2 linked regions of the Homo sapiens genome follow. The protein of the gene in region 2 interacts with the protein of the main gene of each other region in a biochemical or structural test. Each region holds a gene or a part of one and is shown on either strand. Other genes may lie near its edges.

The links. The genes of interacting proteins can lie anywhere in the genome.
Region 1: the proteins of MYO18A (region 2) and GOLPH3 form a complex in vitro, tested with the Homo sapiens proteins (2 studies listed by IntAct).

The regions. Positions count from the first base shown.
Region 1 is NC_000005.10:32,171,297-32,178,351, forward strand, and holds the start of GOLPH3 (Golgi phosphoprotein 3), read right to left. Parts: upstream 3,024-7,055; 5' UTR 2,739-3,023; coding exon 2,514-2,738; intron 1-2,513. UniProt on the Homo sapiens protein: Phosphatidylinositol-4-phosphate-binding protein that links Golgi membranes to the cytoskeleton and may participate in the tensile force required for vesicle budding from the Golgi.
Region 2 is NC_000017.11:29,170,390-29,177,412, reverse strand, and holds part of MYO18A (unconventional myosin-XVIIIa), read left to right. Parts: intron 1-639; exon of another isoform or gene 640-841; intron 842-7,023.

The sequences.
Region 1 (7,055 bases), on a different chromosome or scaffold from region 2:
AAAAAAAATTTCATAATGTTTTAAGAAAATTTACCAATTTATGTTGGGCCGCATTTAAAGCCATCCTGGGCCACATTTGGCCCGCGGGTTGGAAAAGCTTGATTTAGAGTAACATGTACTTGAAAAAACAAATAGGTATTTCCTCACTATAATTTCTCAGTGTGACTCAGAACACCAAAAGCTTATTTTTTAGTTTTTTTTTTTTCAGGTTTTTGTTTTCCACCGAGTTTTATCCACACGGAAAACTCTCAAAAACTATAAACCAAAATGTTCACTCAGGAATATGTTTTAATTTTGCTTTTCTTTTTTTTTGTATTTTCTAAAATGTCTATAATAATGTTATTTTTGTCCAAAAAGAAAAATGTTTATGGCCGGGCGTGGTGGCTCAAACCTGTAATCTCAGCACTTTGGGAGGCCGAGGCAAGTGGATCACTTGAGGTCAGGAGTTCAAAAGCAGCCTGACAAACATGGTGAAACCCCGTCTCTACTAAAAATAAAAACATTAGCAGGGCGTGGTGGTGCATGCCTGTAATCCCAGCTACTTGGGAGGCTGAGGCAGGAGAATCGCTTGAACCCGGGAGGGGGAGGTTGCAGTGAGCCCAGATGGCGCCACTGCACTCCAGGCCTGGGCGACAGAGCGAGATTCCGTCTAAAAAAAGAAAAAAAAAAAGACAAATGTTTATAATCAAGATTTCCAATTTTGAAACCTAAAGTTGAATATTTTCTAAAAATTACATTACTAGGACGCTATACCCCTAGTTTACTTTTTCATCCAAAGAACAAGGAACTGCACATACAGCCTGCTTTATCATCACAACTCAATAATTAAACAGGTACAGCAGCCCTTTCACAGCCAGAGGAACATCAACTTTTTTCAAGGTTACTGTTATTAAAACCTGAGAAATGGGAAACCAAGATATGGCAAATGCCCCAGACGTATCTATCAAGCTAACCGTTAGTTCATTAGATTTCTAAATAAGAAAGGTCCATAAACGGTCCATATAAAACTCGCCTATATCTAGTAAGTTTCAGTGACCAAGAAAGATTACGTTGTTTTGTAAGACTTTTTTTTTTTTTTTGCCCACCTTCCTGAATTTGGAAAACTTTCTTAAAATCAGGCCTGGGCGCGGTGGCTCAAGCTTGTAATTTCAGCACTTTGGGAGGCCGAGGCAGGCGGATCACTAGGTCAAGAGATCGAGACCATCCTGGCCAACATGGTGAAACCCCGTCTCTACTAAAGGTATGAAAATTAGCTGGGCATGGCGGCGCACGTCTGTAGTCCCGGCTACTCGGGAGGCTGAGGCAGGAAAATCGCTTGAACCCGGGAGGCGGAGTTTGCAGTGAGTGGAGATCGCGCCACTGCACTCCAGCCTGGGCGACAAACTGAGGCTCCGTCTCAAAAACAAAACAAAACAAAAACACAAAATTAGCCGGGCATGGTGGCGCATGCCTGCCTCAGGAGGCTGAGGCAGGAGAATCGCTTGAACCCGGGAGGCGGAGATTTCGGTAAGCCGAGATCGCGGCATTGCACTCCAGCCTGGGCAACAAGAGCGAAACTCCGTCTCCACATAAATAAATAATCATTTTTGTAGGCAAATATAACAAATACAGCAAAACGTCATAGAATCTAGAAAGAGTATATATGCATATGTATCTATCACTTTTTCAACTTTTCTGTGTGTGAAAATTTTGGACACTGAAGTGAAAATAAACGCTTTCAAAGTCAGAATACAAAGAATTATCTATTGCAACTTCAACCCACCTGAAGCTTTGAGGCCTCTGATCAACTCACAAACCTACATTTCAAGCACTCGATGAAAAAGCCCTTTCTTAAGACGGCAAGACTTTGAGATTCATCAACTGATAAAATATAAAAGCGATACTAAAAATAATCTCTCACCTAATGTAAGTTCACCTAGAAAGTCATTTACCAGGAGGTTTCATGAGAAACTTAACTTAACTTTACTCAGTAAAAGAGCTTTTCCCTCTATTACCACTTCGCCTACGTTTTTCGTAATTCCCAACAGTAAGCTTTAACTGAAGAAGAAGAAAAAAAAAACATCCCCAGCAAGCAGATCCGGGCACCCCTCCCAGGTCCTAAAGCCTGCAAAAACCCAAAGAGTTCGTGGCGCTGGTGGCTCCAGCTGTTAGTTTCCCGGGCAGTCTCCGGGTTGGATTTGCACCCTGGGGTCTACACGGGTTAAAAACGCGGAAAAAAGGCGACGAAGAAATACAAACTGCCAGGGTGTCGAAATGAAAGGAGCGACTGTGAAAGGGGTAAGGAAAAATCCAAGCCATCTCTACGGGGAGGATCCAGAAAGCACCAGCCGCGCCAGGGGGTCAACCAACTCCGACACCGCTCGGCGTCAGCTGGGCGCCACCAGGCGCGGACTTCGGAGCGAGGGCAGGTGCGCGGGCCGGAAGCCTCGGGCGCTCACCTGGCACCTACCTGGAGCTCACCTGGCGCCCGGGCCCCGCGCCGCCGCCCCCCGCCCAGCCCGCCGCGCCCGCACCTCGCGGTCCTTGAGGCCCAGCAGGAGCACTTCCTCCATCAGGGTCAGCCGCGTTTCCTTGGAGTCGCCCTTGTCGTCGTCGTCCTGCTCGTCGCGGCGGCTCTGCGCGTCGTCCTCGCTGCTGCCGGCGCCGCCGCCCGCCGCCCGCTCCTTGTCGGCGGCGTTGCGGGAGGCCTCGGTGCGCCGCTGCACCAGGCCGGAGCTGCGCTGGGTCAGCGAGGTCATGGCTCCCGCCGAGGCGCCGAGCCGGGCCGAGAGGGTCGCAGGACCGACCGGGTCGCCCTCCTCCTCCCCGCGCGGCCTCCGATCCGGGTTTCCGTGTTAAATCCGGACGCCGGGGCGACGTCCGTCGGCAGCAGGGCCGGGGGCAGTCATGAGGAAACAGGTCAGGGCGAAGCGGGCTGGCCGGGCGTCGGCGGGGCAGGAGAGGAGCGCCTTCCTGCCTGTGGCCGCAGTCCCCGAAACACCCCGAGCTCCAAGGCGGAGGCGGCGGCGGCGCCTTTCCAATATGGCGGCCCCGGCTGACGTCACCGGAGGATGTGGCAGAGTCGGCGCGGGAGAGCTGGGCCGGGAGGCGCCGGAAGCGGCGGCCGGGGATCCGCTGCCACTGCAGCCTACACCCTTCCCGGCCCTCGGTGCTTGTCTTTTCTTTGGCGTTCCTGCGCCCCCTGACCCGCGGTCCTGCAGTCCTGCTCCCGTGACGTGCCCTCCCTCCTTCCGTTCCCCGTTTCCCCTTCACTACCCAGGGCTGGAGCCTGAACCTGGCGGGGCCCCCCGTGAATGGAAGAGCCTGGGCCACGCGAAGGTGGACCCCACTCAGCCTCCAGCCGTGCCCTCCACGCCCCAGACACCGCCGTCTTCGGAGGCGACTCCGCGGTCGTGTGGACGGGGTCCCATTTGGACTCCGGGGTCTGCAGGATCGGCAGGAAGGACTTTGCTCTCTGCTGCTGGGCGGGGAGGGGTACGCTATCTGCCGGGACTCCCTAACCCTTTAGAAGGAGCAAGTGCGTCCAAATGGTTTGAAAGTGGACCTTTATTGTTTTCCAGGAGTAAGAAGATAGAACAGTTGACCAGTTTTGTTTGTAAAACTTCTTTCCTTGCCTCGGACTTGTGCTATAAAGTGACCAGGGCGTAGTGAGTACAGTTAGTACCGCACACGTTAGCACGCTCGACCTTAACGATCTTTTTATAGAGACAATAAACCTGCAGCGTTTCATGCCACGTCTTTGTACGCATCGGATGTCTCTCCGTGTAGTTACTAGGTGAAATCCTCTTGGCGTGCGCAAATTAGGTTAAAAAAATAGCTGTCAAACCTGAGACAGGAGTTGGAGGAGTAGAGGGTGGCGCTTGTTAAGTGAAACATTTAACCAGGAATGGTATTGTGTGCCATCCTGTATTAAACAATGTATGGACAGAGTGGAACAACAGCAAAGCAAAAAATAAAAATTTTTTAAAAAAAGTGATCATGGGCTGTGGCTAAAGAGTGCTTTAGATGGATTCTTCTCTTCCACAAATCCATTATCCAGAACTGCTGCTGCCTACCATCCCATGCCCTGGAAAGTGACAGTGCTAAATGAAGGGAAGAGAGGGTCCAGGGGGCACACCAAGTAGACCTTCCCTTTTTCCCACCTGTCTTGGTGAAGGTCGATTTCACCTCAACCAATTTCTCCCATTCACACCCTCTTTTTTTTTTTTTTTTTTTTTTTTTTGAGACGGAGTCTTGCTCTGTTGCCCAGGCTGGGGTGCAGTGGCACAATCTCGGCTCACTGCAAGCTCTGCCTCCCGGGTTCACGCCATTCTCCTGCCTCAGCCTCCTGAGTAGCTGGACTACAGGCGCCCGCCACCACGCCTGGCTAATTTTTTGTATTTTTAGTGGAGACGGGGTTTCACCGTGTTAGCCAGGATGGTCTCGATCACCTGACCTCGTGATCCGCCGGCCTTGGCCTCCCAAAGTGCTGGGATTACAGGCGTGAGCCACCGCGCCAGCCCACACCCTCTTTGGACCTTTTTTCTTCATCTTTTCTGATTTTACCAAATGTTGTAGCTTGAAATATTTCTTTGTAAAATAAATGTAATTAATTTATTATGTGAAAAAAGTTAATCAGGAGTAGTGGCCCACATCTGTAGTCCCAGGTCTTCGGGAGGCTGAGGCAGGAGAACCGCTTGAGCCCAGAATTTGAGGCTGCCATGAGGGTGATCGTGCCACTGCACACCAGCCTGAGAGACAGAGCAAGACCCTGTCTCAAAAAAAAAAAAAAAAAATTGGCTGGGCGCGTTGGCTCACGCCTGTAATCCTAGCACTTTGGAAGGCCAAGGCGGACGGATCAGGAGGTCAGGAGATCGAGACCATCCTGGCTAACACGGTGAAACCCCGTCTCTACTAAAAATACAAAAAATTAGCCGGGCGTGGTGGCGGGCCCCTGTAGTCCCAGCTACTCGGGAGGCTGAGGCAGGAGAATGGCGTGAACCCCGGAGGCGGAGCTTGCAGTGAGCAGAGATTGCGCCACTGCACTCCAGCCTGGGTGACAGAGCGAGACTCCGTCTCAAAAAAAAAAAAAAATTACTTGACTAATATAGTCAAGTATGTAGTTCAAAGAGTACAAAGATATGTGTAGTGAAAATCTCCCTCCCAGCTCTGCCCCTGTTCACCCAGTTGTTCTCCTTTCTCTCCTGAAGGTTTTAATGCCAACAAATCCTCTGATACTCCTCCCCTCAAAATGTGAAGCCTAATTTCCCTCCCCCTGAGTGTGGGCCAGACTTAGTGACTCTCTTGAAATGAATAGAATGTGGCCAACATGACTGTGTGGCACTTCTCAGGTCATGAAAGTCTATGCAGCTTTTTTCCTCCCCAGCTGCCCTCCACCCCCAGCCATCATGATGGGTGGGGGTGGAGGGCAGCTGGGGAAGAAGTGAGGGAGGAAGGAAGGAGATATTTTAAAAACAGGAAGAGGAAGAAAGGATATTTTAGGAAGGAAAAAAGAAGGAATTTTAGGAATGAGAATATTCCTAATTACAACAATGAGTGTTACTTTTTAAAAAATTTTTATTTATTTATTTATTTATTTTTGAGACAGAGTCTCATTCTGTCGCCCAGGCTGGAGTGCAGTGGCGTGATCTCGGCTCACTGCAACCTCCACCTCCAGGTTCAAGCAATTCCCCTGCCTCAGCCTGCCGAGTAGCTGGGATTACAGGCACATGCCACCACGCCCAGCTAATTTATTTATTTATTTATTTATTTATTTTTTTGAGACGGAGTTTTGTTGCCCAGGCTGGAGTGCAATGGCGCAATCTCGGCTCACCGCAACCTCTGCCTCCCAGGTTCAAGCGATTCTCCTGCCTCAGCCTCCCGAGTAACTGGGATTACAGGCATGTGTCACCACGCCTGGCTAATTTTGTATTTTTAGTAGAGACGGGGTTTCTCCATGTTGGTCAGGCTGGTCTCGAACTCCTGACCTCAGGTGATCTGCCCGCCTCGGCCTCCCAAAGTGCTGGGATTACAGGCGTGAGCCACCGCGCCTGGCACGCCCAGCTAATTTTTTTGTATTTTTAGTAGAGACGGGGTTTCACCATGTTGGCCAGACTGGTCTTGAACTCCTGACCTCAGGCAATCCAGCAGCCTCGGCCTCCCAAAGTGCCGGGATTACAGGCATGAGCCACCGCGCCTGGCCTTGATTGTTTGTTTATTGCCTGCTGAGATGTGCCAGGCGCGGTCTCCAGCAACCCCCACCAGGACCCTGCAGGTTAGGTGCTGCTGCTGTGCTGACCAGCTCCACATGGACTGCAACCATCTCATGCAGTGCGGTCTGGCAGCACCTCCATGCCTACCTACAAGTGTGGGAGAGTAAGCACTTCAAGCAGGTGGATAACAGGACCCCTTTCTTTCCTCACATGAACTGTCCTGAGATCGTTTATACAACTTCTCAGTAGCATTTAGCTCCAGCAAGCTCAACGACCCCTTCACTCCTCGCTTCCCTCCACTAGCTTCTGCTCCCAGCTGTTGCACTCCCTAATAAAGCACAAAAGACTTTGTCTTAGGCCCTGCTTCCTAGGGAACACAGATTAAGATGCCCATTTTACCTATGAAGAAACAGTTCAGAGAAGTTAAGTAATCTGCCCAACTTAACACTTCTGGAAAATCACAGACCTGGATTAGAACCCTGGTCCTTAATTCAGTATCAAACAAGTATATTTCTACATGTTTGCTGCATGCCAGGCATTGTCATAAGCAATAAAGATACAATACTAAGCCAAAAGAGACATAGCCATACTTTTCATGAAACTGACAGTTTAATGAAGGGCACAGATATTAAGCAAATCCTGATGCTAATTAATGTAGAAATGTAGAAATGCTTTGAAAGAAGGAATACAGTCCTATGAGATCATGTACTGTCATATATGTGAGAAACCTAAGTTTTTATCTGGGACTCAAAGCTGCTCTGAAGAAGTCATAAGCCAAAGAATGAACTGAAGTTAACCAAGTTGGAGGTAGAGGACATTCCTGAGAGGAAATATGCAAAGGCCCTGTAGCAAAAGACAGATCAT
Region 2 (7,023 bases):
AAAATGTCAATTTCCCTTGACATTTTAAACAGTTTAGAGTCAGGCAGCAGTTTTGGTTGTTAGACTGATGATTTTACAGGACCCAGGGCCCTTTCTGTCTGCCAAGTAGTTTATCATCACTTACAAGAGATTATTGTGATTATTCTCTAATATTCAGAGAGGTTGGATGATGGGCTGAAGGTCACACAGCAAGTCAGAGGCAGAGCGGGATTACAACCTGCAGTGTGTGGTTGAGCAGAATAGCTCTCCAGCAGAGGCTGAGGGCCAAATCTGAGCTGTCAGGCCCTTGAAGATAACTGTAGCTGAAATAGTGGAGGCTTAGAGAGGGGAGGGGACTTGCTCAAGGTCACACGGAAGGGGATGTTAGCGGAACTGAGCGCCAGGCGGTGCACCTGGAAGAGCAGCAGGGAACCTGGCGAGGCCGCAGGAGCTCTCCCGCTCGCGTTCCTCCATGGCCCGCGGGATTGCTGCCTTCCGGGGGAGATGGGATCGCAGCGGGAGGCGCCGCGGGGCTGCGGCTGCGCCGGCCCAGCCGCGGGGAAACGCCAAGGGCCGCCCGGCTCCCCGCGCGGCGGCGTGAGGGCTGGCTAATGTCACGTGAGAAGCGTGCAGTCGGCGTGAGGGAGCACACCTGGAGCCAGATAAGCTCCGTGTGACCTGGCAGGGAGTCACCCGGCGCTGCGGAGCTCAGCACAGCCGGCCGGGAGGAGGCTCCCCCTGGAGCACGGGGCCAGGCCAGGTGCTGGCTACCCCTCCGGCCGCTGCTACAACCCTTGGCGAGGGGCAGAGCGCGGGGAGAGAGCCGGGGTCCCGGGGCTGGAGGAAACGGCCGCTCAGGGAGGTCAGAGGCCAAGGGAGAGAGGCCGGCTCTCTCGGGAAAGTATTTCCTTTGTATTTATTTATGAGTGTGGTCTGGGGGTGGGGGTGGGAGGACTGACCTAAGTATCTATCCACCACAGCCAACTCTGGGCACCCTTGTCTTGGGACTCTAACGTTATAGTTTCCATTTCCTGGGTTTTTTTTTTCTTTTGCCAGCTGCTAGGTGACCCATTTAAATGTGTCCCCACTTACAGCCACAAGACACCAGTGAACTCTATTTTAACCAAGTCCCCCAAGCCACTGAAACTTTTTCAAGACATGAAGGCAATCCTTAAACTGACCATTACCCTGTTTGCAGCTTTACTGCTGGTGGATTGCCTACTAGTTTGTCCATTTTTTTTTAGTCTGGAAAAAAGTTGAATCATTAGGTAGAAAGCTAAAGCGTTACTAAAGTGTTACCCTTCTTCTCCCCTACTCTCCAGAGATGACCACTGATAAATTTTTGGATCGAATTTTTCCAGACTGCTGTTTTTTTTGAGAAGGAGTCTCGCTCTGTCACCCAGGCTGGAGTGCAGTGGCGCAATCTTGGCTCACTGCAACCTCCGCCTCCGGGGTTCAAGCAATTCTCTGCCTCAGCCTCCCGAGCAGCTGGGATTACAGGCGCCCGCCACCACGCCCGGCTACTTTTTTGTATTTTTAGTAGAGACAGGGTTTCACCATCTTGGCCAGGCTGGTCTTGAACTCCTGACCTCGTCATCCACCTGCCTCGGCCTCCCAAAGTGCTGGGATTACAGGTGTGAGCCACTGCGCCTGGCCAGACTGCTTTTTAAAAGCTTGTTATATATATTTTAGGCACTATATATGTTTATAGTTTAATATATGTTTTATAAAATATCATCTTATATAAATATTTAAAAAATTTCTGTAGTAGGCCGGACACAGTGGTTCACACCTGTAATCCCAGGACTTTGGGAGGCTGAGATAGGCAGATTGCTTGAGCCCAGGAATTTGAGACCAGGCTGGGCAACATGGCAAGACCCTGTCTCTACAAAAAATACAGAAGTTAGCTGGGTGTGGTGGCGAGTGCCTGTAGTCCCAGCTACTCAGGAGGCTGCGGTGGGAAGGATCGCTTGAGTCCCAGGAGGTTGAGGCTGCAGTGAGCCGAGATCGCACCACACTCTAGCCTGGAGGACACAGTGGGACCCTGTCTCAAAAAAAAAAAAAAAAAAGATGAAATAAAAGTAGAAGAAAAATGATAGATAATTCCACTCCCTGAAGCTCCTAGGTGTAAGCAAATACACATTTACCAGATGAATGTTCTTATAAAAAATTAAAATATAGCCCGAGTGCGGTGGCCCATGCCTATAATCCAGTACTTTGGAGGCCAAGGTGGGTGGACCACTTGAAGCCAGGAGTTCAAGATCAGCCTGACCAACATGGTGAGACCCCATCTCTGTTATTTAAAAAAAAAGAAAAAAAATTAAAATATGGATGAAACACAAGTCTATTTGACCCTTCTAAAATTCCAGTCTCCTCCCCAGAGCATATATTTTTCCTACACATATGCAAATATTGTACACAACGTACATGTAATATATTCATGCACATATATAGATATAGGTTTTTAAATTTTAGCAAAATTATAAACTATCCTGCAACCTATTTTTTCACTTAACAATATAGTATAGAATCTTTCCAGGTCAGTGTATACAAATCTACTTCATTCTTTTTACTTTTAATTATACAACTGCTCAGTTGTATAATTTAGCTTTTTTTTTTGAGACAGAGTCTCGCCCTTTCGCGCAGGCTGGAGTGCTGCAATGGCGTGATCTCGGCTCACTGCAACCTCCGCTTCCTGGATTCAAGCGATTCTCCTGCCTCAGCCTCCTGAGTAGCTGGGATTACAGGTGCGCCACTACGCCGGCAAAGTTTTGTATTTTTAGTGGAGATGGGGTTTCACCATGTTGGCCAGGCTAGTCTCGAACTTCTGACCTCAAGTGATCTGCCTGCCTCAGCCTCCCAAAATGTTGGGATTACAGTTGTGAGCCACCATGCCCAGCATTTTATTTTTTTTTATTTTTTTTATTTTTTGAGACATAATCTCCCTCCACCCAGGCTGGAGCACAGTAGCACGAATCTTGGCTCATGCAGCCTTGACTTCTAGGCTCAAGTGATCCTCCCACCTCAGCCTCCCAAGTAGCTGGTATCACAGGTGTGCACCACTGCCTAGCTACTTTTAAAAAATTTTTTTGTAGAGTCAGAGTCTCACTGTGTTGTCTAGGCTGGTCTCAAACTCCTGGACTCAAGCAGTCCTCCCGCCTTGGCCTCCCAAAGTGCTGGAATTAGAGGCCTGAGCCGCTGCACCTGGCCAGTTTTACTATTCTCTAGTAAGGACTTTTATATTTATAGACTTGCTATTATAAACAATGCTGCAAGGATTAGCCATGTATATTATGTGAATGTACCTATAGATGTCTTATAATGGAATTGCCCAAAGAATATGTACATAAATATTTTCATATGCCAGGTGCAGTGGTGGTGCCTGTAATCCTAGCTACTCAGGAGGCTGAGGCAGGAGGATTGCTTGGGGCCAGGAGTTTGAGACCAGCCTGGACAGAATAGCAAGAACCTGTCTCTAAAACAATTTTTAAAAAGTTAGCCAGTAATGGTGGCGCACACCTGTAGTCACAGCTACTCAGGAGGCTAAGACAGGAGGATCACTTGAGCCCAGGAGTTCAAGTCTGTAGTGATCTATGATTGAGCCACCAAACTCCAGCCTGGGTGACAAAGCAAGACCTTGTCTCTTAAAAAAATTTTTTTTTTTCACAGATACCACTGACTTGACCTCTGAAAATACATTAGTTGGTGCAAAAGTAATTGAGGTTTTTGCCATTAAAAAGTAACGGCAGGCCGGGTGCGGTGGCTCACGCCTGTAATCCCAGCACTTTGGGAGCCGAGGCGGGCGGATCACGAGGTCAGGAGATCGAGACCATCCTGGGTAACATGGTGAAACCCCGTCTCTACTAAAAATACAAAAAATTAGCCAGGCGCGGTGGCGGGCGCCTGTAGTACCAGCTACTCGGGAGGCTGAGGCAGGAGAATGGCGTGAACCCGGGAGGCGGAGCTTGCAGTGAGCAGAGATCGTGCCACTGCACTCTGGCCTGGTGAAAGAGCAAGACTGCGTCTCAAAAAAAAAAAAAAGGGCCGGGCGCAGTGGCTCAAGCCTGTAATCCCAGCACTTTGGAAGGCCGAGGCAGGCAGATCACCTGAGGTCAGGAGTTCAAGACCAGCCTGACCAACATGGAGAAACCCCGTCTCTACTAAAAATACAAAATTAGCCGGTCATGGTGGCGCATGCCTGTAATTCCAGCTACTCAGGAGGCTGAGGCAGGAGAATTGCTTGAACCCGGGAGGCGGATTGCAGTGAGCTGAAATCGGGCCATTGCACTCCAGCCTGGGCAACAAGAGCGAAACTCCGTCTCAAAAAAAAAAAAAGTAACGGCAAAAACCATAATTACTTTTGCACCAACCTACCAATTTGTGTTTCCACCAAGACTTATGAGACTCCCTGCATCCCATGCCCTAATTGATTGATATTATCAACCTTGATAGTTTTTACTAAACTGCTAATTGAAAATAGTATACCTCAATTTCACATGTCTGTGAATGTTATGGAGGCTGAATACCTGTTCATGTTTGATGGCCATTTGTATTTCTGCCCCTACAAATTGCCTGTCCATAGTATCCTTGGCACTAGCTACGTGGGCCCTCTGGACTCAAGCCAGTGTGATCCAGCTTGGCCTTGTGCTTATCAAGTTACCTTCACTTCTTTGGGCTTTACTTTCCATGTACAAAGGTTTTGACTTATTTTAGTCATACTTGTGTACTCTGTTATCCTCTCTACTGTGTCATTTAGACTGCAAAAACTGTGCCCTGCTACTATTAGGTACCTCTCTGAGGGTAATTAAATATATTTCATTTAATTCCCCCACCTTAGGTGGTAGGTACCATTATTATCTCCATTTTTATAGATGGGGAAATGGAGGCATGGAGGCCTTAAGTGATTTGCCTGAGATTTCATAGCTATTTACTCATATTTTTTTTCATTTTTATTTAATTTTTTTTTTTTTAGACAGAGTCTTGTTCTGTCGCCCAGGCTGGAGTGCAGTGGCATGATCTCGGCTCACTGCAACCTCTGCCTCCCAGGTTTCAGCGATTCTCCTGCCTCAGCCTCCTGAGTAGCTGGGATTACAGGCGCATGCCACCATGCCCAGCTATTTTTAGTAGAGACAAGGTTTCACCGTGTTGACCAGGCTGGTTTCGAACACCTGATCTCAGGTGATCTGCCCTCCTCGGCCTTCCAAAGTGCTAGGATTACAGGCGTGAGCCATTGCGCCCGGCCCTGTTTACTCAGATTTGTTCACAGGTTTGTTACTTGATATCCAAAGCCTGAGCTCTGACACTGGGCTTACTTATCTTTATGTTGCTTGCCTTTAGGAAGTGGCTGATAGATACATATTTTTTCCCAAAATTTTATCACAATGACCTGCAAACATTCAGAAAAGTTAAAGAATTTTGCAACGAATACCCTCCATTTCCTAGATTCTACAATTAACATTTTCCTATCCTTGCTTTTACACATCTGTATCCCTTGATCCATCCATCAGGCTATGGTTTTTTTTTTTTTTCTTTCTTTCTTTTGAGACAGGGTCTTACTCTGTTACCCAGGCTGGAATGCAATGGCATGATCGTGGCTCAATGTAGCCTCGACCTCCCAGGCTCAGGTGATCTTCCCACTTTAGCCTCCCAAGTAGCTCCCACAGGCATGCACCACCACATCCAGATAATTTTTTGTATTTTGAGTAGAGACAGGGCTTTGCCATGTTGCCCAGGCTTGTCTCCGACTCCTGAGCTCAAGCGATCTGCCCGTCTCGGCCTCCCAAAGTGTTGGGATTATAGATGTGAGCCACCTTGCCCAACCTCATCAAGCTGTCTTAAAATTTTACACATCTCAAAGTAAAACGTAGACATCAGTATATTTCGCCCCAAATACTTTAACATACATATCATTCACTAGAGTTCAATATTTGTTTATAGTTCTTTTCTTTTGAGTGGATATTTACAAACAATGAATGCACAAATCTTTTTTTTTTTGAGATGGGGTCTTGCTCTGTCTCCCAGGCTAGAGTGCAGTGGCGCAATCATCTTGGCTCACTGCAACCTCCGCCTCCCAGGTTCAAGCGATTCTCCTGCCTCAGCCTCCCTAGTAGCTGGGACTACAGGTGTGTGCTGCCACGCCCGGCTAATTTTTTTTATTTTTATTAGAGACGGGGTTTCAGGATGGTCTCGATCTCTTGGCCTCATGATCCACCTGCCTTGGCCTCCCAAAGTGCTGGTATTACAGGCGTGAGCCAACGCGCCTGGCTGAACGCACAAATCTTATGTGCACCATTTGATAACTTGACAAGTGCATATACTTATCAACCCAAACCGCTATCAATATACAGGACATGAATATCACCCCAAAAAGTTCCCTCATGCGATCCCACTCCTACCCCCACCATAGGTTAGTTTTGCCTGCACTAGAACTTCATATAAAGAGAATCATACCCATATGTGCTCTTTGTCAAAGACTTCTTTCCCTCTCACTTGACATCATGATTTTGAAGTCCATCCCCATTGTGTGTATCTTTAGTTGTTTCTTTTTTCTTGCTGAGTAGTATTCCATTGCATGAATATGAGCATTGTTTATGCACTCTGATGGACAGATAGATGTATATTTGAGGTTGATGGTCATTGCCTTCGGGATGCTTACTCTCTTAAAGTGATAGAGCAGCTGAGTTGACAGATTGTACTTTCTTTTTGTTTTTGGGGATAGTAAGAGCAAGATTATTCGGGTCCATACCCTAACTTACATAGATGCCTTCCTTTTCTTAAAATTAGGAAAAACTTCTTAGAGTATGATGAGGAGAGAAACGCAGAAAAGGAGGTCAGGAAAATTATAAGGTTACCTTTACTGGAGTGGAGGGAGAGGGTAGGAGAGGAATGGGAGGCAGATGGAAACTGCAGCCCGGGATAGGGGGTAGGAAGGTAGTGGTATCAGAGCTGTTGGAGACTTTGGACCTGAGGCCAGGAGGTGCCGGAAAGTGCAAGGTCTACAAGAAGGCCATGGAGCAGCAGTCGCATTGCAGATCTGATCCTGGA